6 separate regions of the Homo sapiens genome follow, and all the other regions are reported to be linked to region 1. Evidence: microRNA targets listed by miRTarBase, many of them from high-throughput screens and not tested one by one. Region 1 holds a microRNA gene; each other region holds the end of a gene's coding sequence.
The links. Region 1 holds the annotated microRNA hsa-miR-29c-3p (UAGCACCAUUUGAAAUCGGUUA, at 1,764-1,785, opposite strand). A microRNA usually pairs through its seed, bases 2 to 8, with sites in the 3' UTR of a target mRNA and lowers its output. Matches are read on the target gene's strand: a 7mer-m8 pairs with bases 2 to 8, a 7mer-A1 pairs with bases 2 to 7 and ends in A, and an 8mer does both.

Region 1 (4,091 bases):
TTTGAGGACTGGAATCAGGGCCTCCTGAGAGCAAAAATCTGTCGTCTGTATTTGCAACACCTAGGCTGGAGCTTTGAGCGTGGTGGGCGGATCAAAAACTGTTTAATTGGTAGGTAGTACAACAGACCCCAAAAATGTCTGACCTATAGGTATTTAATACTATTGTAGCCTATCTCAGTGGGAAGTGAACAAAACAATATAACTTAGGGTCTTAACTAACACCACCACTTAGGGTCTTCCCACCACATCCTGGGGATTAGAACATGGGTTCTTCCATCAACAGCCTGAAATAGCACTGCAGCTGCAGTGAGGGGGTGCAACATATGTACTGGCAAGTCTTCCCAGCAAATGCTACTTCCGCCCCCCACTCTCAGCCCACTGGGCAGGGCAGCCATCTAGAGGAAGACTGTGGCAGGGGGTTGGGCTTAGAAATGGCTTCCTAGGTGGCTGATTTGCCATCATTTATTGCAAGCCACTGGCTTAAAAGAGTTCTACTGAGGGTAGTTCATAGTCATGCACCTCCTGTGCAAAAAGCCTGATCAAGGGGCCACAGCCCGCCTTCCTGAAGATCCTACAAGCTTGATCCCCTATCAAATCAAATCTGGCTAATCTCTGAATAGCTTTACAAAACTGGCTCACTGGGCCAGGCGAGGTGGTTCACGCCTGTAATCCCAGCACTTTGGGAGGCTGAGGTGGGTGGATCACGGGGTCAGCAGTTCGAGACAAGCCTGGCCAACATGATGAAACCCCGTCTCTACTACAAAATACAGAAATTAGCTGGGCGTGGAGGTGCCACGCCTGTAATCCCAGCTACTCGGAAGGCTGAGGCAGAATTGCTTGAACCCGGGAGGCGGAGGTTGCAGTGAGCGGGGACAGTGCCATTGCACTCCAGCCTGGGTGACAGGGTGAGACTCCGTCTAAAACAAACAAACAAACAAAAAAAAAAAACAAAAAAAAACTGGCTCATCTTGTTTTGAAGTGTTGACATAAACTAATAGTCAAAAGCACCACTCAATCTTTTATAATGCAAGTGAAATCAGTGCTGTGCCCCTTCAAGGAACCATGTGACAGTATGTTTAGTTGAGCACCAGTTCCTTGCAGGAACAGTTGCTGGCAGAAGGGCTGTGTCTACAGCCCATGTGGAACTAAGGAGTTTTCCCATTCAGTAGGGAGCATCCCTCAGCCTTGATCTTCAACATTTCTTCTCTTCCCTAATCTTTTCTCTCATTTTATTTCTTGGCTCATAGAATTTCATTCTTCTCTTAATGGGCTTCATTTTTAATGTCTGGCTGGCTGTAACCTACTTCAAATTCTTTATGAAGTAGGCAAGATCTGCACAGCCAATTAATTTTTCAGGACCCACTTCTTATCATCACAGAATTATGAATGGGAAATAATAGATGAAAAACACAGACATGATAAACTGAACATAGTATTTATTAAGGTCAGGATGCATGAATAGACTCTTCTCAACAGAAAGATAATTCAACAGCAATCAATTTACAGAATTTAGAACAGCACTACATTTCAGCAAAATGCAACTAGAGAACATCAGATAAATTATAGTAATTTGTTTTTAAAAATCCATTAAACTATCTCTTACCTCTGCAATAATGTATCATACATGCAGTTACAGAAGTTAGTAGGGAAAAGCATGATCTTCCTTCCCTATTCTCTGCCCATCCATCTTCCAGGAAACCACAGGCTGCTGCTGCCCAGAGTTGGCATGAGGCTTCGAGGCTGCTGCTTTTCCCCCTACATCATAACCGATTTCAAATGGTGCTAGACAAAAACAGACTCTGAACACCAGGAGAAATCGGTCAGCCTGTGTAAGAGATGGGCCAGTGGTGCTCCCAGGGTCTGCACCTCGACAGTCCAGGTGGCAAGTCTGATTTCGGGTGCCCCGCAATCAACGCCGAATACTCCAGGGCATCCTCTAAGAGCAGACTGATGGTGTCGATGTGGACAAAATGGTCCTCCAGGTGTACTGCCCTCTCCCCTGCCCCATGACAATCGACACCCAATACATTGTTATCCAACAGAATATGACAATCGCCACACTCAAAGGCCCTACGAACACATTCATGCTGGTGATGGCTGCTAGGAGTCAACAGAAATAGCATCACAACCTCTGCCCCTGCTCAAGCCACTGTGTTTATTTTAAACACAACCCCCTTCTCTACTGTCACCTCTCCCAAAACCCAACAAACTCAAGAGTGTATTTTGCTCTTCAAGTTCTTCCCTGGACTTCTCGAACAGACTCAAGTGGCAAGAGGAGAGGAGCCAGTTCCATGAGCAGCAGTTCCTCTGCAGTCCACCCTTGGCTGTGCTGCAATTCTTACTCCTAAAACACTGATTTCAAATGGTGCTAGATACAAAGATGGAAAAATCTAAGCCACCATGTGAAACCAGCTTCCAGAAGAAGAGGATCTCAATGAAGAAAGAAGGGAGATTCAATCGGAAGACCCAGCCTCTGCCCTGAGGAGAAATATCTTCTTGTAGTTCTACTTGTGATATGACACAGTGCTCCATGGGAAAGGCACAGAGGAGGTTACACAGGGCTGCACAAGGCAACATGAAAGGCACAGCTGATGCTTCAAATAGATGAGAGCAATACAAAACTCATTAATTCTAGGTTAATTCTATTTAACTTCACACCAGTCACTACAAATTATTATATATGATGAAATAAAAGCTAAAATTATTACTAAAATACATTAATATTTACATTTGTACTGCCCTGCATTTGTATAGTATTTCACAGTACACAAAGTGTTTCCAGATATATTCTCTTACTTCATCAGGACACAAGCACCCTATCTGCCTGTGGAATGAAGCTCCAGCTGCTACACAAAGGCGAGTCTCACCTGGGCCAGGACAACTCTTTTATGTGTCTTAACTTGAGAAAAGCATGCATTCCTCCTTCCCACCCCATATGTAAGTATCAGAACATTCAAATATGACCCCATGAACCTGCAATCTTATTTAACCCCGATGTGACTTCAAAAACTGGTACCCTATAATTGTATTAAGCAGATAATCCTCTAACGTAAGAATTGAGTTTTATTTTCAAAGTCTGCTTGAAAATAAGATTTGCACACTGTATTCCAAATTAGATTTCCCATCTCCTTACTGCATCATCTTTTTTGGTGGTTTGAAGCTAAGAAAATATGTGTATTTCCTCTGATACCATAACCAAGAGAAAAGAGACAGAGTAGACACTGTATATTTTAGCTTCCTTTCAGGCCTCTAGATACAGCCTTATAATTTTTATGGTTCCTGGCACTAACAGTATGTGTTGCTAGAAGGAGAAGAAATAGAATTTGAACATCAAAAGTTGCGGTGTTTAATTCTCACAACAGTCGTATGGGGCAGGTATTATTCCAATTTTTGCGAAGAAATTCATCCTTAATGAGGCTAAATAACTTGTCTGCAGTCACACAACCAATCAATGCAGATCCCAGGTCTAACTCCAAAGACTGTGTTTCTGCCCTTGTATCCACTGCAGCCTGCTCCATAACTTGACTATCATCTCATTTTGTTCTTGAACTTCATTAAGAACAAAACAGGGTGGGTGGGGCAGGAAATTCCTAGGCGATACTTCTGCACTGAATGGGATCATACTGACTACATAACACGTTATACTTAGGGGGAGACAGGAGCATCATCTGGGTTCTGCGAAAGCCGGGTGGTCTGGGGCAGCTTGCTTTGTTCTCCTGCTCCTCTAGCGCCTTTGCCGTCTTTCCCCAGCATGTGGCTGTGGGAAAGACACTGAAGATGAACCTGCAACAAGCGATTCTGACACCAGCGCTAGGCTCTACAGCCCACGGGGGACTTGCTAGCCTCAGTCACAGGTGGGAGAGCTGGGGCAGATCTGCACACAAGGGCTCTCAGTGATGACACCTGTAGCCAACACCTGGGGCTTGTTAACCAGGTAACAGCCAGGGTTGTAAGGTCAGGAGTGAGTGTTTAAGGACAGTTACTACTGGGAGTCCAAATCCTGTCAAATGAGGGGATTTGATGAGATTCTCACTTTTCTGCTTTTCATTTTAGCCACTCTTCCTTATCAACTTTTAGTTACCAGTACCCCC
Region 2 (4,091 bases), not on the chromosome of region 1:
CCAGACCCACTAACTCAGTTTAATAGAGGAGCCTAATAAACCACCTGTCCACAGAAACGGTGATTCATGTCTACTTTTCTTTGTTTGCATATTTCAGATTTGAATTTGGCCAGGAAACATCCCAAACTCTGAAGCTTGAAAATGCCTTGTATTTTGATCGAAAATACCTTTTTGCAAATTCCAAAACTTACTTCAATCTAGCTGTAGATGAAAAGGGCCTTTGGATTATCTATGCGTCAAGTGTGGACGGCTCGAGCATTCTTGTAGCACAACTGGATGAGAGGACATTCTCAGTGGTGCAACACGTCAATACCACGTACCCTAAATCCAAGGCTGGCAACGCCTTCATTGCCCGAGGAATCCTCTATGTCACAGACACCAAAGATATGAGGGTCACATTTGCCTTTGATTTGTTAGGAGGGAAACAGATCAATGCAAACTTTGATTTAAGAACTTCCCAGTCTGTTCTTGCCATGTTAGCATACAACATGAGAGATCAGCATTTATATTCATGGGAAGATGGCCATTTAATGCTTTATCCTGTGCAGTTTTTGTCAACTACCTTAAATCAGTGATGTGCTGCATTCGGCTCCCTTCAGCAAATTTCAGGGGTTTTCTGGGACCAGTTCTCCCCCAACAGGAAACTTGTTTTTTTAACGTCAGCCAGATATTTAGAAAATAACCTCAAAAGTGTTTATATGGTCAGTGAGCCCCGCTTAGTGAAATAGCAACAGATTGGAAGTTGAAATGGCTGAGATTTGGTGATCTCCCCACAGCTGGCTCTGCAAGTTACCTCTTTCTCCTTGGGCCTTAGTTTCCCCATTGGTAATCTGAATTGGCTAAGATGATTGGGGAGATTTTCTGTACCTGTAGGTAATTTGGTGATTCTTGGTGGCTGCTCTTCTCACAACTTTTATGTATCTGCTTCTGTCGTTTAGCTTTTTTAGCCACATGCTGACCAAATTTACCTTTGAGTTGATAAGTCCAGTGGCTTGAGTAGTGAATCCCTCAGTGCTGACTTATATCTTGTTCTTTGAAAAAATGCATTGACTCTTTAAGACATCTAAAGTATCACATTATCCATAATTTATTGCTTTTCTTTGCATCTGCACCTGCCACCACAGAATAACCATTACCCTCAGCTGCTGATTGGGCAGCTCTGAGATTAGCAAAAGCCAGGGACAGCTACATGTTCAGGTTTTTTTTTTTTTTTTTTTTTCAATAAGCTATTTTTTTTCTTTTCTTATTTTAAATAGAGAGAGAGTCTTGCTATGTTTCCCAGGCTGGTCTTGAACTCCTGGGGCTCAAGTGATCCTCCTGCCTTGGCCTCCCAAAATGCTGGATTACAGGCATGTGTGCCTGGCCCAGGTTTCTTAATAAAACAGAATCATGATCTTCCAGGTTCCCCCCAGTTTCTGATCATGTTGATTTGTAGCTGTGGATCATGAACACTGAATCCTCAGATCACTCTGACTTCTTATGCTTCTCCTGTGGATCCACTATCAAAGTACTAAATGCTGTGTAAGTAGACGTTAATCTGGCTGGAACCATGGGAAGCACTTTGCAGTGTTCAGAAGAGAGGCTCCATTTGTGGCTATTATGTAGAACTGGGCCAGAGCCAGTCCATTGCCTGTTTTTTTAAATAAGGTTTTACTGAGCACAGCCACACTCATTTGTTTATGCAGTACGGCCTGACATTGCTTTTGCTCTGCAACAGCAGAGTCGAGTCATTGCAACAAAGAGCATATGGCCCCACAGTGCCTAAAATATTGACCAGCTACCCCTTTATGGAAAAAGATTGCTGACTCCTGATAAAGAATATAAAGTGAGCCTGATTCTTGAAAAAATCAGAACCAGAGCCTGTTTTGTTTTGTTCTAAACTAAGAAGCCGCATAGGATGTGACTTGCGTTTTGAGTAGAGGGGAAGGCTGATAACGGCGTAAGATGAAGTGGCCCTCCACAAAGGCTGGTTAGGGGACAGTTCTTTCTCTAACATAGTTTTAAAGGATGTGATCTGGTCCCCTTGGATGCCAGGAGAGAATCCAGTTGAACTTGCTCCTAAATGCTCTTAAATATGCATATTTTCTGCCAACTCACTTCTTTAAACATCTTTCAGCCCAGCGCTGCGGCCCCGGGAAGGGCCACTGCGAATAGAGAGGAAGCTGGAAAAGTTCCTGGGGCTCTGCAGCCAGGAAGGGGAACCAGGGCAAATCTTATGTAAAGATTTTTCAGCAACTTGTCCCAATTTGTGTGTATTCTGAAACTTTCTCTTTGGGACCAAATTCATTCTCAATGGCCCTGAGTTCAATATATTATTAACAGCAGTATTTTAAAACTTAGGGTTGAACTGGGCATGGTGGCACATAACTGCAATCCCAGCTACTTTGGAGGCAGGGATGGGAGGATCACTTGAGGCCAGGATCTCAGGACCAGCCTAGAGAGATCCCATCTCTAAAAAATAAAATATAAGAAAATAAAACTTAGGGGATATACAGATTTAAATATTCAAATCTCCCTGCTCCCCTGAAAGTCCCCAGGCAGCTGTCAATGACTTGTTTGTTGTGTTCTCAATATGATGGCTATTTGAAACTTCACCTACTTTTCATTAGATTGGTTGTACCATGTCACCTTAGCTTTTAAAAATACTCTTTTCAGATTCACGTTCTCTAACAAAGAGTCTCATGTTCAAGATCAATATGTCTAATAAGTGCTGGTGTCCTTTTAAAGTATTTAAATATATATGTTGCTGTTGCTGAATACAGGAGACCAGGTTAGGAATATAGTTTCATAATAATAGTACATACAATACTAATTGTATATAAGGTAGCAACCAAAAGAGGTTGTTAATTAGCACATATTCCTTTTAGAAAAATGTTTCAGAAACCTCAGTCTTGATATCTGAGCTATCTGGGCTCCCTTACTTGTGAGTAAGGGATCATGCTCACCACTGGAGAAGCTTACACCGGGACTTTTTTTCTTTTTTCTTTTTTTTTTGCTATGACAGAGTAATGCTAACGTAAGGACAACTGAGTTTGATCAGTGTTTAATCGCAGTGGGTAATCTTATCTGATTGTCTTTAAAAGTGAAAAGGATTAAGATTTTATTCTTTCTTGTAAACATTACTTGATTTTTTAAAGAAGTTTTGGGCTCACTGCTAAAATAGAGTATACAACTGAATGTTTTTAAGTCAAGATACTGTTTTAGGAGTTTACCCTCTCATTTATAACCAAAGTTGCTCTAAAACACTTTCCAAATATCTGCACTTCTGATGTCAGAATCAAACCAGATAATTCTCTAATTCTTCTTTAATCTAAAGTAGATAGCTTCCCACTGGAAAGTAAACAAAACCATCCCTCCCAACCTCAAAGCTAGGCCACACTCTATTTCAAGGCATTTTCTTTCAGCTGATAAGGTGTCCTCCTGAAGCCAAGTAGGTGGTTCTGGTCTCCAAGTATCGTTAAGCACAGGTGCTATGACAGAAAAAGTTCTGGGGTGGAAGTTTTAAGATGAGGAGTTCTGATCTTAGGCATCTTAACAGTCACAAGGTGAAAAGTCAAATGAAACAGTACAATTCTTGATGAGTGAGGTGTCATCTTCCAACCACACAGAGGACGTTTTGGCTATGATCATCTGATGGCAAGTGAAGGAGAAATGAGTGATAGGGCTTTGCGTTTTCATCCAGATGCTGTGGCCCTGTGTTTCACAGCATTAAGAGCCATAATTTCCAACCTGCACAGATCCTGAACAACAAATGAATAACGATGAATGTCTTTTTGGTTGTAATTTAACAAGTCAAATAAAATAATCATTGCTGAGCACAATCACATGTTGAAACAAGTGTGTTGTTATTTTTACCTCTTGTTAATGTATACGTAACATTTAAAAGAAAAAATCCAAAACAATATTGTGGTAGAATTATATTAGTTGCTCCTCTGTGGAAACTCAATTTGCTAGCTCCTTCTGAATACAGTACTGAAAAATTGTTGATATGGACTGTCTCTTCTCTATAAGAAAACATGAGCGATGGAAATCTAGTACTAGAACTGGGTTATACGTAGACATAAATGCAATCAAGCTTTGCCAATTCATCA
Region 3 (4,091 bases), not on the chromosome of region 1:
CCTTTCCCAGTCTTTGATTTTTCTGTGCCCCAAGTATTTGGCCTATGTCCAGACGAATTATTTTGCCTCAAGAAAGGAAAAGAGCAGAGTCTACTGTGTTTCCAGGGATCACTCATGATGTACATCAGGCCAAATTTTTTTTTTAAAAATTTATTGATATACTAAGAGATAACAAAAGGACAAAAATCTTCTGACGCCATTTGCTGTCCTTCCCCTGCAAAATAAATTAACATCAGTCTAAAAGAAGAAAAAACCCTGCAACCTATGCTAGTTTTCCAAAAATGCTAGAAAACCCACAGAATCATGAGATGCACTTGAGTAAAATCTGGTCATGTAGGCACTACCTGTTCCCAACTCACCATTCCCCTTCCCCACACCATCAGGGGCTTTTTGGGGGAAGCATTTCCTTAAACTGGTTGATCCTAATTAAATGTGGGCCCTAGGCTGCTGTCCTGTTTCAACAGAGATCCTTTCCTAGGGCAATAACATATCTACTTTTGTTCTCTTTTAAGAAAGCAAACAGCCATAGTTGAAAGCAATTAGAAGTGGCATACATGAATGATTTTTTTTTTAATTAAAAAACACAAATCAAGCCAGTGATTGGCTTTGGTTCAAAGCTTGATCCTCCCCTGAAGTCTCCCCTTAGTGAAAGCTCTCGGCCCAGAGCCCTCTCCAGCTAGGTCAGAATTTCGAGTGTAACCAAAACAAGGAACACTCTTTTTTGGTACAAAATATATACATATAAAAATATGCTAACATCTCTAAGGAAGACAGACTGGCCACTGCTTCCTATTCAATACAGGAGCAAACAAAACGCGGTTAACACACCATTTCACACACACACCATTGCCACAGTTCCTGCGGGACCTTCGGGAAAAAAGCAACAATGCATCGTCAGAAGTGCCAGATACCTAGCTACACAAACACAAACACACACACAAATAGCAGCAAATAAAAATAGAAAAAGTCTACTTTTATTTATTGGTAAACATAAGACAACCAAGTCTGAGCATCTGGTGCAGTTCCCAGTGACGGCACTTGCCCTGCACACGCTCTTGAAGCACCAGGAAAAACACACAACACAGTAAGAAGGCAAAGTGGCTGGGAGTAAGGTATCTGCAGATTCAAACTTTGGGATTGAAGTAGCTGGTAAACAGAAAGGCACCGAATCAGGGTCTGGAGAGACCCGGCTGCTGGGGAGGAATCTGGCCTGCCCAGGCAGACAGGGACAGACATCCTCATTTCTCCAACAGCTCCTGGAAGCCGAGTCACCCCAAGGGCTTGGAGAGCTGTTAGTCTGGCTTTGGAGCAGTGAAGGTAGCACAGTGCTCAGCAGGAAGGAGTCAAGACTTTGCTGTCGAGCACAGGGAGGCTGGTGCCTGAGGCTCAGCGTGCCAGGATCCACGCCTCCTCCCAGGCTGCGCAGTGAGCTGGAATCTCTCCCTCTCCTGTGGGAGCAGCTCTTCCCCTTACTGTCTGCTTCCAGCTCTGGCCTAGCTATCTGGGACTCTTAGCCCTTCAATTCGCCGAGGTGGGCACCATTCCTGCTGCAGCCAATATGGCCACTGTGGGCTGGCCCCCAGCTGGCATATGGATGGCCCTCAACGAAGCCATGGACATGGGTCCCTCCCCAAAGGCACACTGTTAAAAAGATCCATTTGGCTACACCAAGGCCACCTCTTCCTATTTGGCACGGTGAGGTACTGGGGGGTCTTGCAGTCTGGTACGCCTGCCCCCCGCAAACCAGAGCCCATTCTCAAAGTCCGGGCTGCTCCATGGAATCAGGAGTGCCTCCCTATAGTCAGGCACTGGAATGTAGCCCCATGCCTGCTGGCGGACTCCATCCAATCAGAGGAACAGAAAGCACCCACCCCACCCTCTTTTATTTTTGGCATCACAAAGACCTAGTGACCAGATTGCCTGCCGCTGCCACCTCTGGGCTGCCCTGCCTTGCTGCCCACGCTGCTCTCAGAACAGAAATCCTGATACTGGTCAGAAGCCATACAAGCTAGCTCCCAGACGTGACCACCTAGAGGCAGCTCACAGTCTTGAGTTAACAGGGGCCTCAGGGCCGAGGCTGACAGATCCAGCTTCCCGGGACCCTCTACCAGGCGGGCCCCCTAGACTTTGTCCAGCTTCCCCAATGGCACAGGTCTAGTTTTTCAGCTGGAAAGGAGCCAAGCAGGGAACCCCTAAAGGTGATGGGGATTGTCAGGGAAAATGATACTCCTCAAGGAATGCCTCATCCACTTGGGCAGGGCCCCACACAGGACGTAGGGAGTTGTTGGCTGGACCCACGGCCAACACTTGCAGCACAGGCAGAGCCGGCAGACGGGCCCATGGACACCCAAGTGCCAGCACTGCTGTCCTCCAGGTCTCCGGGGCAGTCTGTGGGCCATAATTAGAATGAAGCCAGTCCTTTACTAGCAGAAGGTAGGTCCTGGGAGTGAAGGGAGGGGCTTGCCTGCCAAGGGTCCTGCCCACTGGACTCCCCTGGACCTGAGCACCTCCACTTTGGGTTTTCCTTGGGACACACTGAACTCTGGGCTTTTTAGAAATGGAACATGCTTCAGTGGGCCTGGGGCAGGAGGTGGGTCTGGGTTTGGAAGGGGACTCAGGTCAGTTCTCACTGGGACACAGGCAGGAGGGAGGGTGGCAGCCATAGCCTGCCTCTCCTGCTCCGAGGCACGGAGGCTCTTCAGGTGGAACCCAGCTGTGGGACCACCCCCGCCCCACCCACGCTGGCTTGTGGGCTATGGATGCTGCCCTGAACTGGGGCTAGATGGCCATGAAGGCAGCCTTTTAGGGCTGCTGGGCTCGCTCTACTCCAGCTGCCTGCCACTGTCTTTTCACATTAAGGCCCCAGCCAGCCCCCACCTGTCAAGGGCAAGCTCCCCACTTCATCACTGCCGGCTCAGGCAATGCCAGCCAGGACCACCCCTGCCCACCCCATCTCCCAAAAGCTGTGGCCAGATGGAGGGAACACTAGTCCCACTGGCCATGCCTCCCCACAATACTCTCTGCCCACTCCAGGGCTGAAGGCAAGGTGGGCCAGAAGTCCCCTCCTGACACCTCAGCCCCTGCAAGACAGGGACCAAAGCTGTGATTCAGTCACGCAGGCCAGGGAGGAGCAGTTCAAACTCAGCAACAACGCAGCCATGAAGAAGCCCGCTCTGTTCAAGACAGTCACCTGGAGCCACAGGTGCCACCGGGTTTCCTGAGGCAAGAGGGGAGAGCAAAGAGGCCTGCAGAGGTAGGAACAAGGTGGAGACCAACAAGGCAGTGAGGCCCCCTGCCCTATGTCCTGGGACAGAGTGGGGTGCGGGAGAAGTCCCTTCCAAGCCTGCCCATCAAGGAGGCCACCCACTCCTCCTCCCCCGACCCAGACTCTTGAGGGGGCTTGGGCTGGGAGTCACTTAGCCAAGCGACACCATAGGCAGGGAAGGGGAGTAAGACCGCGCAGCTGGTGGCGCCGGGGCTTCAGTAATGCCTCAGGTTGAAGAAGCCCACGCTGGTGGGAGACTCCTTCACTGTGACGGTGATGAGGTTGGCAGTGACGTCGGTGACAAATACGTGCTCGATGAGGCTGCGGGTGGGCTTCCAGTCCTGGCTGGTCTGAACGGACACTGACGGGTTCTGTCCAGTGCTGGGCGGCGAGGCGGAGTCGGGGTCGGAGTCCGAGCTGCTACTCTCCTCACCTGCGCTCATCTCTGGCAGTGTGGCCGCCTTGCGGGCTTCTCCGGGGGCTGTGCGGCTCTCCTGCCCACTGGGGGTAGCACTGCCCTTGACACAGTCCCTCTTGCTGGCAGGGGTGGGTGGCGCCACTGCTCTGGAAGCCAGCTTCTCACTTTTGCTTGTGTCGGTGGGCATGGTGGCCCCGCTGGCCCCAATGAGGCCACTCCCAGTGCCCTTCCCAGGGGCTGGGTTGGTGGCCGGGACACCCTTGGTGGCGGTGGCGTGGCGGGCAAGGAGACCCACCCCGGGCATGCCATTCTTGACACTCTGCAAGTCCAAGACCTGGAGGCTCAGCTCCTGGGTGGGTGCTGGCTGGGGGCCTGGGCACCCAGCAGGCACCCTGCTGGCACCATGGG
Region 4 (4,091 bases), not on the chromosome of region 1:
TTTTACATCTCGTTCCATTATTTTAAGCTACATGCATATGTTTATTATTTTTGTATCCTCCAAATTCTAATACAAGCCCTCTGAAGCCAGGGTGTTTGTTTATTTGGTACTATGCTGTATTTCCAGCATCTACTTTGTTGAACGAATAAATTGGTAGAAGTCACAAAAATTCTGACTAGCATATGATGTACAGTGATCCAATCTGAACTAAATTTTAAAACTGCAAACTTTTTCATATCCAGCTATTAAATAATAGCCACCCTAAATAACATAACTCTCCCCAAGTTTAGAATACTATTTTTGGCATTCAAAAATCAACCAGTATGTAAACACTGGCTGTTAAGCAATGATATCTCATGCTCTAGTGAAGGAAATAAATGAAACAACAAATCCATTAAAAGGAACCATATGAAATGCAGCCTTGAGAAAAGAATTTTTTTCCTTAGATCCAAGTACAGACTAGAATCTGTAAGAAGCGTGATGACTGTGAATGGAAAGGCAAAACAATCTATGGAGCAGGAGTTTCTTTTGCTCATGTCATGTAGCAATTAATAGCTCCGATAGTTTTCAACACATACTTTATCCTTTGGTGATTTGTCTATATGTTTACCTAAATAACAGGCTAGGGAAAGTCTTACATGTTTACAAATTAACACAATTTCCAGGAAAAATAAGTTAGGAGTGGTGGATTATGTGCATTTAATATAAAAAGCTAACTAATTAAGTGCTCTGAAGCTGGGAATTTGTACAATGAAGTGAATCTACCAGTTAAATTGGTGGTCTACATAATCAACAGTAGGATATACTATTATAATCTTTGTATTTCTTTTCTCTCATTACCAGATGATTTTTCCAACAGGCTTTAAAGTACAAAGAGTTTTAACAAGATTTCAGTGAGTTAAGGTTTATTTTGAATACCCTGGAGGTATCTCTTGTTCAAGGCTAGCCCAGAGTTGAGTTCCAGGGAAAACTGGCTTGGTCCTAAATTAATCCAACTTTGAAGGATACAGGAGACAAGGAATTTCTGAAGCTAGTTGAAAGGTCCAGGAGACAAGGAATTTTTGAAGCTAGTTTTAAGGTGAGACTGAAGTGGTACTGGTTGGGAGTATCACCAGAAGTAGGTGTAGGGTGAATGAATGCACCAGCCTCCTATAGGGCACTATTTTTGCTGTATTCCTCTGAAGATCATTTAGCTTTCCATTTCATCTTTAGCCTTTTAAAGAAATGTCAACAAGGCAGTCAACATATTCATAAGATTATTTTGGCCGAGCATGGTGGTTCACGCCAGTAATCCCAGGACTTTGGGAGGCCGAGGTGGGTGGATCACTTGAGCTCAGGAGTTTGTGACCACCCTGGGCAACATGGCGAAACCTCGTCTCTACTAAAACACACAAAAAAATTAGCCGGGCGTGGTGATGTTTGCCTGTAATCCCAGCTACTTGGGAGGCTGAGGCACGAGAACTGCTTGAGCCCAGGAGGCGGAGGTTGCAGTGAGCTGAGATCGCACCACTGCACTCGAGGCTTGGGCTACAAAGTGAGACTCCATCTCAAAAAAAAAAAAAGATTATTTTCATGAAGCATTAACTATATACCAGGGAAACAGAAAAACCATCTATGCATTTTACAGAAGCTACAAGAATAGAAAGCATCTGATTACAATTAGCTTGAATTTAAATGGCTCATTTCATAATCTAATGTTGCTAGAATAGAATCTCTTAAAATAGTCTTTTAAGATCTTTTTACTTTTTTCCCCTTTTCCCAAGTTAGCTGATCTTTCCACTTTTCTGAGGATTTATAATACTGATTTCTCTTCACAATTTAATGATACATATATTTACTCAAGTTAAATTCAACCAATTTACTCAAAAAAATTATGTTGATGTATACAGTATCTTTTTTTCTGGTGGAAAGGCAGGAATTAGACAGGAAAAAAGGGTAGTTTCTAACACTGTTGAAAAGTTCAGCAAATGCTTCCCCTTGAGCTGAGACCAGAAGGCAGAATAATCACAATGGCTTGCAATATTTATGAATACTACCACATGGCCAATGAATATTCTCATTCTTATTAAAAAAAAACACTTGTGTACACACCAGAAGGCAGCAGTACATTAGTATTTACATTTATTTAACGTATGCAGTTTACACACTCATTATTAAACAAAATTGGAATGCAAACAAATATACAAATACCATAAGCATTATCAAATAAAATAACTGGCACTAGTGTTATAAGCATATTAATGGACCTGGTAGGGAAAAGTGATGGAAGAAGACTGCAGCCCATGGCATTTTTCTTTTTACCAAAAGAAAACGCTCAGTAGCACCATAATGGTAATACTTAAAAGAAATACATAAGATAGAACATTTTAACTGCTATCATTGAGGTTAACCTGCTTTTATTTAAGTGAATTATACAGGAAATTAACAGTACAGGCAGTATTTTGGCCAACTTCTGCTTATGTCAGCTGAACATTGTCCATAAACAAAAGCAAAAGAAAATAATGCTAATCATACATGGACCTTTTGTACTTGGTACAAGTTCTGCACCGTGCTTTGATTTCATGGTTGGAGAAGATATGCATGTGTTAAAAACTGAGGTTATGTAAAGTTATTCACTAAAGCCTGAGTGTGTCTTTGGTAGGCTAATACTTTTTCAGCATTATTAATCACATTCATGTTTATCTATTTCCTGTATTTTTATATATAATCCAAGGTGACCAGAGAAGACATGGAAAACAACACAGCAAAATCCTCAAATAACTAGGCCATTAAAACCCAGTCGATCCCAAAGGCACCAAGAATCAATGGGGTACAAACTTCCCCTTAGAGAAAGGTGGATTTTTTGTAATACTTATAACCTAATGGGACTTTATTTTGTAGTTTTATGTATCTTATTTGTTGCTGTCATATGCTTAATTACTTACCTTTACATTTTTTCCTCTAAGATGGCATCAACAATAAACAAGATAGAGTACCAGGTATTTCTATTTCAAAGTTGTGCAAAAACTGCCACAATCTTGCTCAAAGTGTCTAAGTATCCAAATGGTAGCAAATGAGCTGCATTAAGCTTTATATAACCACATTGCATATGAAGAAAAAAAATGAAATTTATGCCGATATAAATAGAAATGTTACAGAGTATCATATACTGAGAGTAACCTATGCAGTTCTTTTAAACTTATCTCTTTAGTGGTTTCAATAAAATATCACTAACCACTTATCCCTAAAGCCTCAAGTTTTCTTCATTTGAATGCTGTAGAATTGCATTAGTATTTTATATTGATTATATAAATTAAGACCAATTTCTATCTAAGTATGTGCTTCAAGCAATGTTTTGTGGCAAACACACAAAACATGCTTTGCTCTTCAAATTTATTATCCTTAAAATAATGCACTTTTAAAGCCTTCACTTCATAGTTTGGTAACTAAGATCCACATGACACACAATGCCTTGCTGAACACAGAAAATGTATCTGCATTATGATAATGAAACCCGGCTTTTGCTGGTAACCTGAAACTTAAGTAGTCACATGTAGTTCAACCAGCTCCAAACACGGTTGTACAGTGGTAATTATTCTGCAGCATTTATGGGCCTAAATTTCAGTCTGAATTGCAACTTTTAATTCCATTGTCTGATGTGAGTGGTTGTTATTTGTTTCTTTTAGTGCATCGCCAAAATATAAATCAACATTAGGTTTTATTCCATTGTTACCATGTTCTTCAGCAATATGATTCAACTGTGAAACTTCTGAACAGGAAGCAGTTTGGGTAACCACAGAAATGCTACACTGATGTGGGGAATTTTCCAGACGGTCATTTTCTACCTCAGGAAGAATGTTAACAGTAGCAAAGCGGGTGTGATAATCACTGGAACCATGACTACAAGAAGTTTTCATGCTTTCTAGGTCAGAACAACTAAATTCAGAAAAATGACTAGAGTGAGAATCTGCTACAGAAGGCATACTGTCACTGAGGGATGGAGCCTCAAATTCACTTGAGTTCGTGCTTTGTTGTTCTAACAACTGTGCATCCATGTCCTCTCTCGTCTCATTTATCTTCATGTTACCCTTTTTCCTCAGTTTACCACTTTT
Region 5 (4,091 bases), not on the chromosome of region 1:
GCCAGTCCCAGCACAGAAACTTAAATCGGCCTTGAATTTAAATCAGCCAGTTTCTGTGTCCTCAGTTTCTCCTGTAAAAGCCACACAGAAATCAAAAGATAAGAATATAGTTTCAGCTACCAAAAAGCAGCCTCAGAATAAAAGTGCATTTCAGAAGACAGGACCCAGCTCCTTGAAGTCTCCTGGCCGTACCCCACTGTCCATCGTGAGCCTACCCCAGTCTTCTACCAAAACACAAACTGCACCGAAGTCAGCACAGACTGTCGCTAAGAGCCAGCATTCAACTAAAGGGCCTCCCAGAAGTGGCAAAACCCCAGCTTCAATCAGGAAACCACCCTCATCTGTTAAGGATGCAGATAGTGGAGATAAAAAACCTACTGCAAAGAAAAAGGAAGATGATGACCATTATTTTGTCATGACTGGAAGTAAGAAACCTAGAAAATAAATACATACTCATTATAAAAAAAGAGAAAAGGAAGAATGAATGTGTTAGCTTCACATCTTAAAAGTTTCTCCTATTTGTGTCTGTCTAAATAGGTGCAGACACTAAGGATAGTGAGGATGGAGGCTGGGATGAGGAAAGGGTTCATCAGAATTCACATATCTGAATTCACTGGAAAGAGCCCTTCTGAAGCAAACAGTTGTAAAATCACTGCAAGGTTTTTATTAATAATAGACATGTATATGATTTTCAGTCTATAGCATCTTTGTTAACATCTGCCTTTTGCAGGAAATGTAAAAGTTATTTAACACTACAAGAATTTTAACAATAGTTGCTCTATTTTTGAATATGTATTAAATATGGAGTTCATATACCTGCTAATATCAACGGTGGTGCTCTTACTATTAGTTAATTGCATTTTGGTTAAAAAAAAAAAAGCAACAGTTTGGCACTTGTCCTACAAAAGGCACCTAATTTAATTTTCTGATCAGGATTGCCTGATCCAACAGTGCTAAGTCATGGCTGCTGCTGACTAGCTTGGCATTATTCTGTGTTAGGTAGAATTCTTATTATTTATTTTTTTAAGCTTTCCAAATTGGAAGGAACTGATTGTTTCATGTGGCTTATATTTACATTGGTAATATTTTGTCACCAATATTTTTGGTTAAAAAAAATCCAACAAATTAACTTACTGAAATATAAACAAATTTTGTAAACAATTTTTTATATTATCTATAAAAACGTAGACACCTTATGTTTCACATGTTGTGCAATGTGACAGGGGAAGCTGATTTAGTAGCTTTTAGCATATTAAAAATAATTTTTTATAATGTAATTTCCTGTGAGTGCAGACCTGACATTTTACATTAAAATAATGTGAAACATCAGAATTATGTTTTAACAACTTTAAAATTAAGATGATGTTAAAATAATTTTAGAGTTATGCTATGTAAAAATTCTATCATGAAATTATTTTTCTCTAGATAGCACAATACCAATTTTAATTAATTTCTTCCAATTAGGTTACTTTTCTTTAATAAAGTTATGCTGCCTTCAGTTTTCCAATGGCAAGTAGACAGGATATGTTCAAGGTTTTCTGCACTGTAGGCACAGTCTCTCAAGCATATCCTGATCATGTAATGACTGCATAAACTCCATCAACCTAAGGTGATACTTGTAAATAATTTATTTTTAAGGGATGGTGACTTTAAAAATTATTAATGAACTTTGAGAAGTTTTAAGAGTGCTTTTAAAACTTCACAGTATTGCCAATTATCTTAGGTTATTCAGTATTCAGGTTTGTGTTTCTCTGTTTTAAACTAAAATGTGTTTTCTGAAGAAAAAAATAATAGTTTACACAAATGTACAATCATAGAATAAGCATTTTAAGCTGGCGACTAGTGTTCTATAGATTACAAAGCAAGAAAACTTTCTATGAAGATAAATGACCTTTTGCCTGAAGAGTACAGATAAAATCAAAGATGTGTGCAAGCTAGTTTTTGGAAGAAGTGATGCTTCTCTTCTTTAAAGAGACAGTCACCAAATACTTGGTTTAACTCGACTATTGACTTGGGCATTGAGAGAGATGATATATACATCTTTGGAAAGTGAAGTCAATGTTCAAGAGGTGATAGAAGCTTTACTTTTTAGTGATCAGAAATATTTAGTGCATCTTTTCAGACAGGAAGAATTTTATCATCAAGTATTCCCTTATAAAACCAAGTAACACTTCTTTATCAGTAACTTTTAGAACTTAAAAGAAAGCAAAAAGTAAATGGAATTGTAGGCAATTTATGAATCCTAGTAGATTTTACAATATGTAATTTATGTTGTTTACAGTATATAAACACTAAGTTTTGTGTTAAATGTGATCAGGAATAAAAGTATCCCACAGGCATCTGACACAAATTCCAGAATTAGCCAAAGAATTGTTTATTTGAGGCCAGGCAATCCCAGCATTTTGGGAAGCCAAGTTGGGCAGATCACGAAGTCAGGAGTTCGAAATCAGCCTGACCAACATGGTGAAACCTCTTCTCTACTAAAAATACAAAATTAGCCGGGCATGGTGGCACATGCCTATAATCTCAGCTACTCAGGAGGCTGAGGCAGGAGGATCGCTTGAACCCGGGAGGCAGAGGTTGCAGTGAGCCAAGATTGCGCCACTGCACTCCAGCCTGGGCAACAGAGTGAGACTCTGTCTCAAAAAAAAAAAAAAAGAAAAAGAAAAGAAAAAGGTTTATTTGAATAATTGGAAGTCAGTTTATACATTACTATTTTTCAGCAGTAGGGAATTTCTCCAATTACATTCATGTTGAATGAATTTTTATTTATATATAGCTTACCCTTCCAAAATAAAAGTGTTTTTTTAATGTTGTTTTGTTTTGTTTTGTTTTTTTCCTTTTTTGAGACGGAGTTTCACTCTTGTTGCCCAGACTGGAGTGCAGTGGCACAATCTCAGCTCATTGCAACCTCTGCCTCCTGGGTTCAAGTGATTCTGCTGCCTCAGCCTCCTGAGTGGTTGGGATTACAGGCATCCACCACCAGGCCCAGCTAATTTTTTTGTATTTTCAGTAGAGATGGGGGTTTCACCATGTCGGCCAGGCTGATCTCAAACTCCTGACCTCAGGTGATCCACCTGCCTCAGCCTCCCAAAGCGCTGGGATTACAGGCATGAGCCATCACACCCAGCGAAAAGTTTTGTTTGAATAAACAATATCCGAAAGACAATTAGTTTCTTCAGATGTATTTTGAAATTCTCCTAAAGAGCTAGTGTTTCTATTCATTTTCACAATTTAAAAACAGCTCTTAACATTGCTGAAGTTGGGAGAACTTTCCATCTCTTCTTAATAACAGTGCAAGATTTTGTAAATTCTTTTTTGTGTTTAATGTTTAATAAAACGAGTATTAAGCTTAAATTACTGAAGTACCTGGGAGAAGTAATGATGTGTACTTTCAAAAAAATGGAAAATGCTTTTATTTTATTTTCTATAATTTGTTAACATGATATGTAAAATTAAACTTCGGAGCACAATGAAATGCCGATTATTTTTACCTTGTTTGGGCTTAAAGTAGGTATTTAAGGTTTATGTGTTCAAAATGCCTTGGTAAATTGGATGACCTCTAACTTTACTGTCCATATGGAGTTTGTCATTCTTTATGGATAAGAGAACTTAAGGAAAAGTTACTGTTTTTCTTCAGTCTTTTTATATCTATCTGATTTAAAATCTGTTACTTTATTAAAAGGCTTCAACAACAGGTTGTTAGGATGTAGTCTTACATCCAGGTTCACATAATAACCCCATTTGAATCCAAATTTGTGTATATTTTCTTATGCCAGCAGTATTTGTATCCAATTTTAACTTAGGTTTGTTTTCTTGAGTATTAAAATTTAAACATATATACCAAGGTCTCAGTTTGCTTTTTTGGTGTATTCTGAATACAGTCTGATCACTTAATTCATGTTGGAAATTGCATATAGGAAGAATTCATAATTTGAGAAGAGTGCTGTTTAAAATGCTTTCTTTATATTTGTGGAATTTATTTCACTGCACCCAGGAGATTATAAGGCCTTGTCATTAATCAACAGTATTTGTTCCTCAAGTTGCTGTATATGCTGGATGTTTTTCCAGAAAGACCAGACTCACATTTA
Region 6 (4,091 bases), not on the chromosome of region 1:
TGAAATCAGTTACAGCTGCCAGATGTGTAATTTCATTACCTTTGACATACTGTGCATATTTTTAGAGGCAGTAAGCTTTGAAAATCACTAAGTGAATTTGGTAAATAAAATTGCAAAAAACTAATTTAGCTTGATAACTGGAGTAATGGGTAAATAAATTTTTTTAAAAACCTAGGTCACATAATCCCAGGCCTTCCAGCTGATAATAATTTCAGCAGTTTTGTTATACTCTGCAACAATAGTTCTTAAACTTTCAGGGGTCATGAACCCTTTCCCAAGAAAAAAGTTTTCATATAATTTCAGGGTATTTTTAAATCCCTGAATTCATTACCTCCATGGATTCTCAGTTAAGAACTCCCTAGTTCAACAAATAAAGCATCGTTTTCAGAATTTATTTGTTTTGTTTTCAAAACATAAGTTATCAGTGTTTGGGAAGGAACTACATGTGGACTACTATAATTACATTTCTTAAAATTTTCAGCAAATTGGAGAAAGCAAACTTAAGTAGGAAAAATGTTTAATAATTGAAAAATAAAGCAAACTGAAAGCAAAGTCTGCAGATCACACCCTCCACCTTGCCAAGTCCCCCTTTGTGTGTTGTGTCCTGTAGTGTGTTTTCTTAACAGCCATGCTGTTTAGATTGAAATTACCATTTATGAAGACAGAGGCATGAGCAGTGGAAGATAAACCGAAGAATTAAAGGTAAATATGAAATGATATGGCTTGTATGCAGCTTTTGCAAGTTTAGAGGATGCATGAATATTCTTCCCCGCATGGTAAATAAATCATTAAATCACGCAGTTAAATAACAGTATATTTGCTGTGTTAGCTTAAGCTAGTCACTGTATTAGCTTGATATTTAAAATGTGTATTCGGCCCAAGTTCTATTTGGTGATAGAGAATTTAATTCTGATTTTTTTTCCTGCTGTATTGTGTTCAGACTGGTTTTGTTGTTACTTTGGTGGGGGAATGGGGGATGGCAGTTACTTGGCTTGTTTTAATATTTCAAAACTATCCTAGACATATAAATACTTGGGTTTTGCATATAAGAATGAGTTCAGAGATGTCTACCTATATGACAAATGGCTTTAATAAGCAAAGGAACATTTCAGAGGGGAGTGGGGAGATTCTGAATATTTCATTTATTATGTTTAAGTGGCTTCAGACCCCTGTGGAAGAAACCTTACCTACTGAGTAGAAACATAAATTTCATTCCTTTGTTTAAAGTATTAATGTCCTTAAATATCCAGATGCTGCCCTTTAATGAGTAAGAAACAAATTAATACTACTAAGAATCTCTAGGCAGAGTCACGTTGAAGCCCTAAGTACTTTAGCATAGCCTTCTAAGTGACAGGAAGTAGCACTTCACTATTTCTGCCAATTTTAGTTACGTGGTCTTCCTACAGAAAGTGTTCTGCTGCTGCGCTTTTCTAGTTGACTGTGCTTATAGGTATCTGTCACTAATTAATAGACAGCACAGACACAGAATGTACCAAAGCAGACACATGTCTTCCTAGGGCAACATCAATAACAGCTACCATTTTGAGGGCACGTACTATGTGCCTGGTATTGTACAAATGGTACTTCTGAATCTCACAAGAACCCTACAAAGTATTTCCCCATTTTATAGATGAGCAAACTTGGATACAAATAGATTAAATGATGTTCTCACAGTCACACAGTTAACGAGTATTGGGATATGAACCCAAGTCTGATTGATCATAAAACCCCTGTCTTTTACACCGTACTTCCTCTCAGTACTTGCAGCAGCAGGAACATGGAGAAAGGGAAGAGTTCATCAGATAATTCTAGAGGTTTATCCCCTTCTCTTCTTTTTCAATACTTTAAAAAAGAATACATTTTGTCTGCTCCTGTATGATTTATTCAATCCTGTAAGCCATGCAACATTCCAGAGCTGCCTTCTTTAGCACTAGTGAATGTGTCACCTGAATTCCTGAAAGCCAAAGATCTAAATCATGATATCTATCCTCTGCCATATGTTGTATTTCCTTAAAAAGGCTTTGTTTTGGAATACTTAGTGTTACTTGTCCATACGCTTTCTCATGTACAATTTTCAAACTGATACTTCTCAAACAACCAGCAACCTTCTGTGTGGCTTTTGTTCCATGCCATGGTTTGTATATCAGTTGCAGCTGCGATGACTTGGCACAGCCCATTTGTCATGACTCATTTTGCAGCTATTGTGTAATCATGTGTTTTTCTGATGTGTGAGGTTTGAGCAATTACACACCAGAGGCTAATCTATCAATATTCAAATAACTAGAATTTTGAAATGGGAAAGATTTACATTAATAACTTCTGGATACCCTCTTTCATGAATGCAGATATTTTTGTTCAACACAATTTCGTTTTGGGATTTGGGTGTTCCCAAGGTCCAGGATGCAATGTGAGCTGAGATCTTAGAGAAGGGGAGGAAACTCTAAGCATAATTTATTCAATTCTTCCATTTTTCTTCAGTCTGCAAGGTGTCTGCAATTTGAAGCAATATGTGGGAATTAGTGACTTAACAAAAGACTACACAAACATGAGGATGGCCTTTATTTTTAAAAGGAGCTTTAAACAAAAATGCCTTTCTTTAAGCTTAATTTTTATAATATCTTGCATATATCTTTATTATCACATTGTTATTGTTACATGCACTGGTGTTTTCTCTCTGGATTAAGATTGCCATCTTTATATAAAATGGAATACATGATTATTCCATCACAACTAGTGATAATAAAAACAGCTAATGTTTGTTGGCACATCTGTGCCAGCACTATTCTAAATGCTTAATTTTAATCATCACAACAACCCTATGAGGTAGATATTGTTATCCCTGTTTTTCAGATGAGGAAGCCGAGGCAGAGAGAACTTAAGTTGCTGGCCCAAGGACAAACAGCTAGTAGACAGCAGTCAAGGCAGCGTGGCTCCATGGTGATGTGCTTGGTCAGAGATCTGAATATATAGGACTTAGATTTGTAGACTATTGAGCTGTAGACTCATTTAGACAAATGGTACCAAGATATTTTAGTAGATAAAATTCTAGGTTAGTAGAACATAGACCACATGTTATAAGCTGATATCAGTTGATGGAAGAAAAATGGTTTTACAAGTTATTTTCAGGATCTCTATCAAACCTTTACTTCTCCCTCTAATTACAGATCCCACTTCCAGCCGGGCCCCTCATGTATCCACTGGCCGACCGCAGAGTGTCCCTACCTCCTCTCCAGAGCATCATTCCTTTCTATCTGCTGCCAGAGCCACGGTGCCATTTACTCCAAGGACTCACTTTCTAAAATTCCACACCTGGAGTGACCTCTAGTCGCTCAGCATCCACTTTGTGTCTCCAAATTGTGTAGGACTCTGTAATCTTTTGATTAGTTTCTGAGAAAACACAATGAAGCACTTCACTTTTTTTTATTCAAAGCCATTTAATAAAACACAGTTGGTCAGCCCAGTGCAAAGCTTGTTATCTGCCACCAGTACATACCATTGGTTCTCTTCATTCCTTGGGCCAGCTTCTCAGGTGGCTTTAGACCTCAACAAGCCGTATCTTCACCAGTGTTCTATCTTGTTCCCCTAAATTAATAAAATGTTTTTCTCCAGGATTTTGGTGAGGGTTGGCTGTGGCTGTCGTTTTGCACCTCCCAGATTTCAAAGAATTACTGGTTTTACCATGACTCAAATCTTAAGATCTGTTTCTACTATTCAGTTCCTCAAACTGAAGCTTATTGAAAAAAAAATGTATAATGTTATTTGTTTTATTATAGCAATTATGCCTAATTAAAGCAGTATTTAATGCAATTTCCAGTTATTTCTTTGGAGAATTTTATGTCATTGTTCCATTACCTTGAATGTTGGAAAGATATGATACGTGCTGCTTGTTCATCACAAAAATCAGTAAGCACAATAAAGTGGATGCCAAACCATCAGACACATAAATGTTCCCGCTGTGTCCCTGGATATGGAATAAGCAGGTATAAAAAATATTTTAATTATAGTTTTGTTATAAATATAACTTATGAGAAAAAAATTTGATAGGAATAATACTGTATATTACTAATTTTTAACTATCCCTAAGGCAAACC

Region 2: the mRNA of GLDN is a reported target of hsa-miR-29c-3p. Seed matches in the 3' UTR shown: 7mer-A1 at 3,467-3,473.
Region 3: miRTarBase lists CBX2 as a target of hsa-miR-29c-3p. Seed matches in the 3' UTR shown: 7mer-m8 at 1,060-1,066.
Region 4: the mRNA of RNF19A is a reported target of hsa-miR-29c-3p. Seed matches in the 3' UTR shown: 8mer at 2,319-2,326.
Region 5: miRTarBase lists GAS2L3 as a target of hsa-miR-29c-3p. Seed matches in the 3' UTR shown: 7mer-m8 at 833-839.
Region 6: the mRNA of GOLGA7 is a reported target of hsa-miR-29c-3p. The part of its 3' UTR that is shown has no 7-base or 8-base seed match.

What each region holds. Positions count from the first base shown.
Region 1 is chr1:207,800,102-207,804,192 of GRCh38, forward strand. MIR29C (microRNA 29c) reads right to left here and starts at 1,838; the gene lies at 1,751-1,838. MIR29B2CHG (MIR29B2 and MIR29C host gene) reads right to left here. Exons shown (of 6, transcript NR_135299.1): 6 at 1,417-2,561. It overlaps MIR29B2 (microRNA 29b-2), which reads right to left and starts at 2,422; the gene lies at 2,342-2,422.
Region 2 is chr15:51,404,180-51,408,270 of GRCh38, forward strand. It overlaps GLDN (gliomedin), which reads left to right. Exons shown (of 10, transcript NM_181789.4): 10 at 98-3,821. The coding sequence ends at 575. Among named protein-coding and RNA genes, the nearest start is that of GLDN, 65 kb to the left of the region's middle.
Region 3 is chr17:79,784,432-79,788,522 of GRCh38, reverse strand. CBX2 (chromobox 2) reads right to left here. Exons shown (of 5, transcript NM_005189.3): 5 at 540-4,091. The coding sequence ends at 3,481. Among named protein-coding and RNA genes, the nearest start is that of CBX2, 8.3 kb to the right of the region's middle.
Region 4 is chr8:100,254,963-100,259,053 of GRCh38, forward strand. It overlaps RNF19A (ring finger protein 19A, RBR E3 ubiquitin protein ligase), which reads right to left. Exons shown (of 10, transcript NM_183419.4): 10 at 2,105-4,091. The coding sequence ends at 3,594. Among named protein-coding and RNA genes, the nearest start is that of RNF19A, 53 kb to the right of the region's middle. RefSeq lists an enhancer at 3,670-3,769.
Region 5 is chr12:100,624,446-100,628,536 of GRCh38, forward strand. It overlaps GAS2L3 (growth arrest specific 2 like 3), which reads left to right. Exons shown (of 10, transcript NM_174942.3): 10 at 1-3,843. The coding sequence ends at 445. Among named protein-coding and RNA genes, the nearest start is that of GAS2L3, 53 kb to the left of the region's middle.
Region 6 is chr8:41,506,420-41,510,510 of GRCh38, forward strand. GOLGA7 (golgin A7) reads left to right here. Exons shown (of 5, transcript NM_001002296.2): 4 at 640-702; 5 at 3,165-4,091. The coding sequence ends at 687. Among named protein-coding and RNA genes, the nearest start is that of GOLGA7, 18 kb to the left of the region's middle.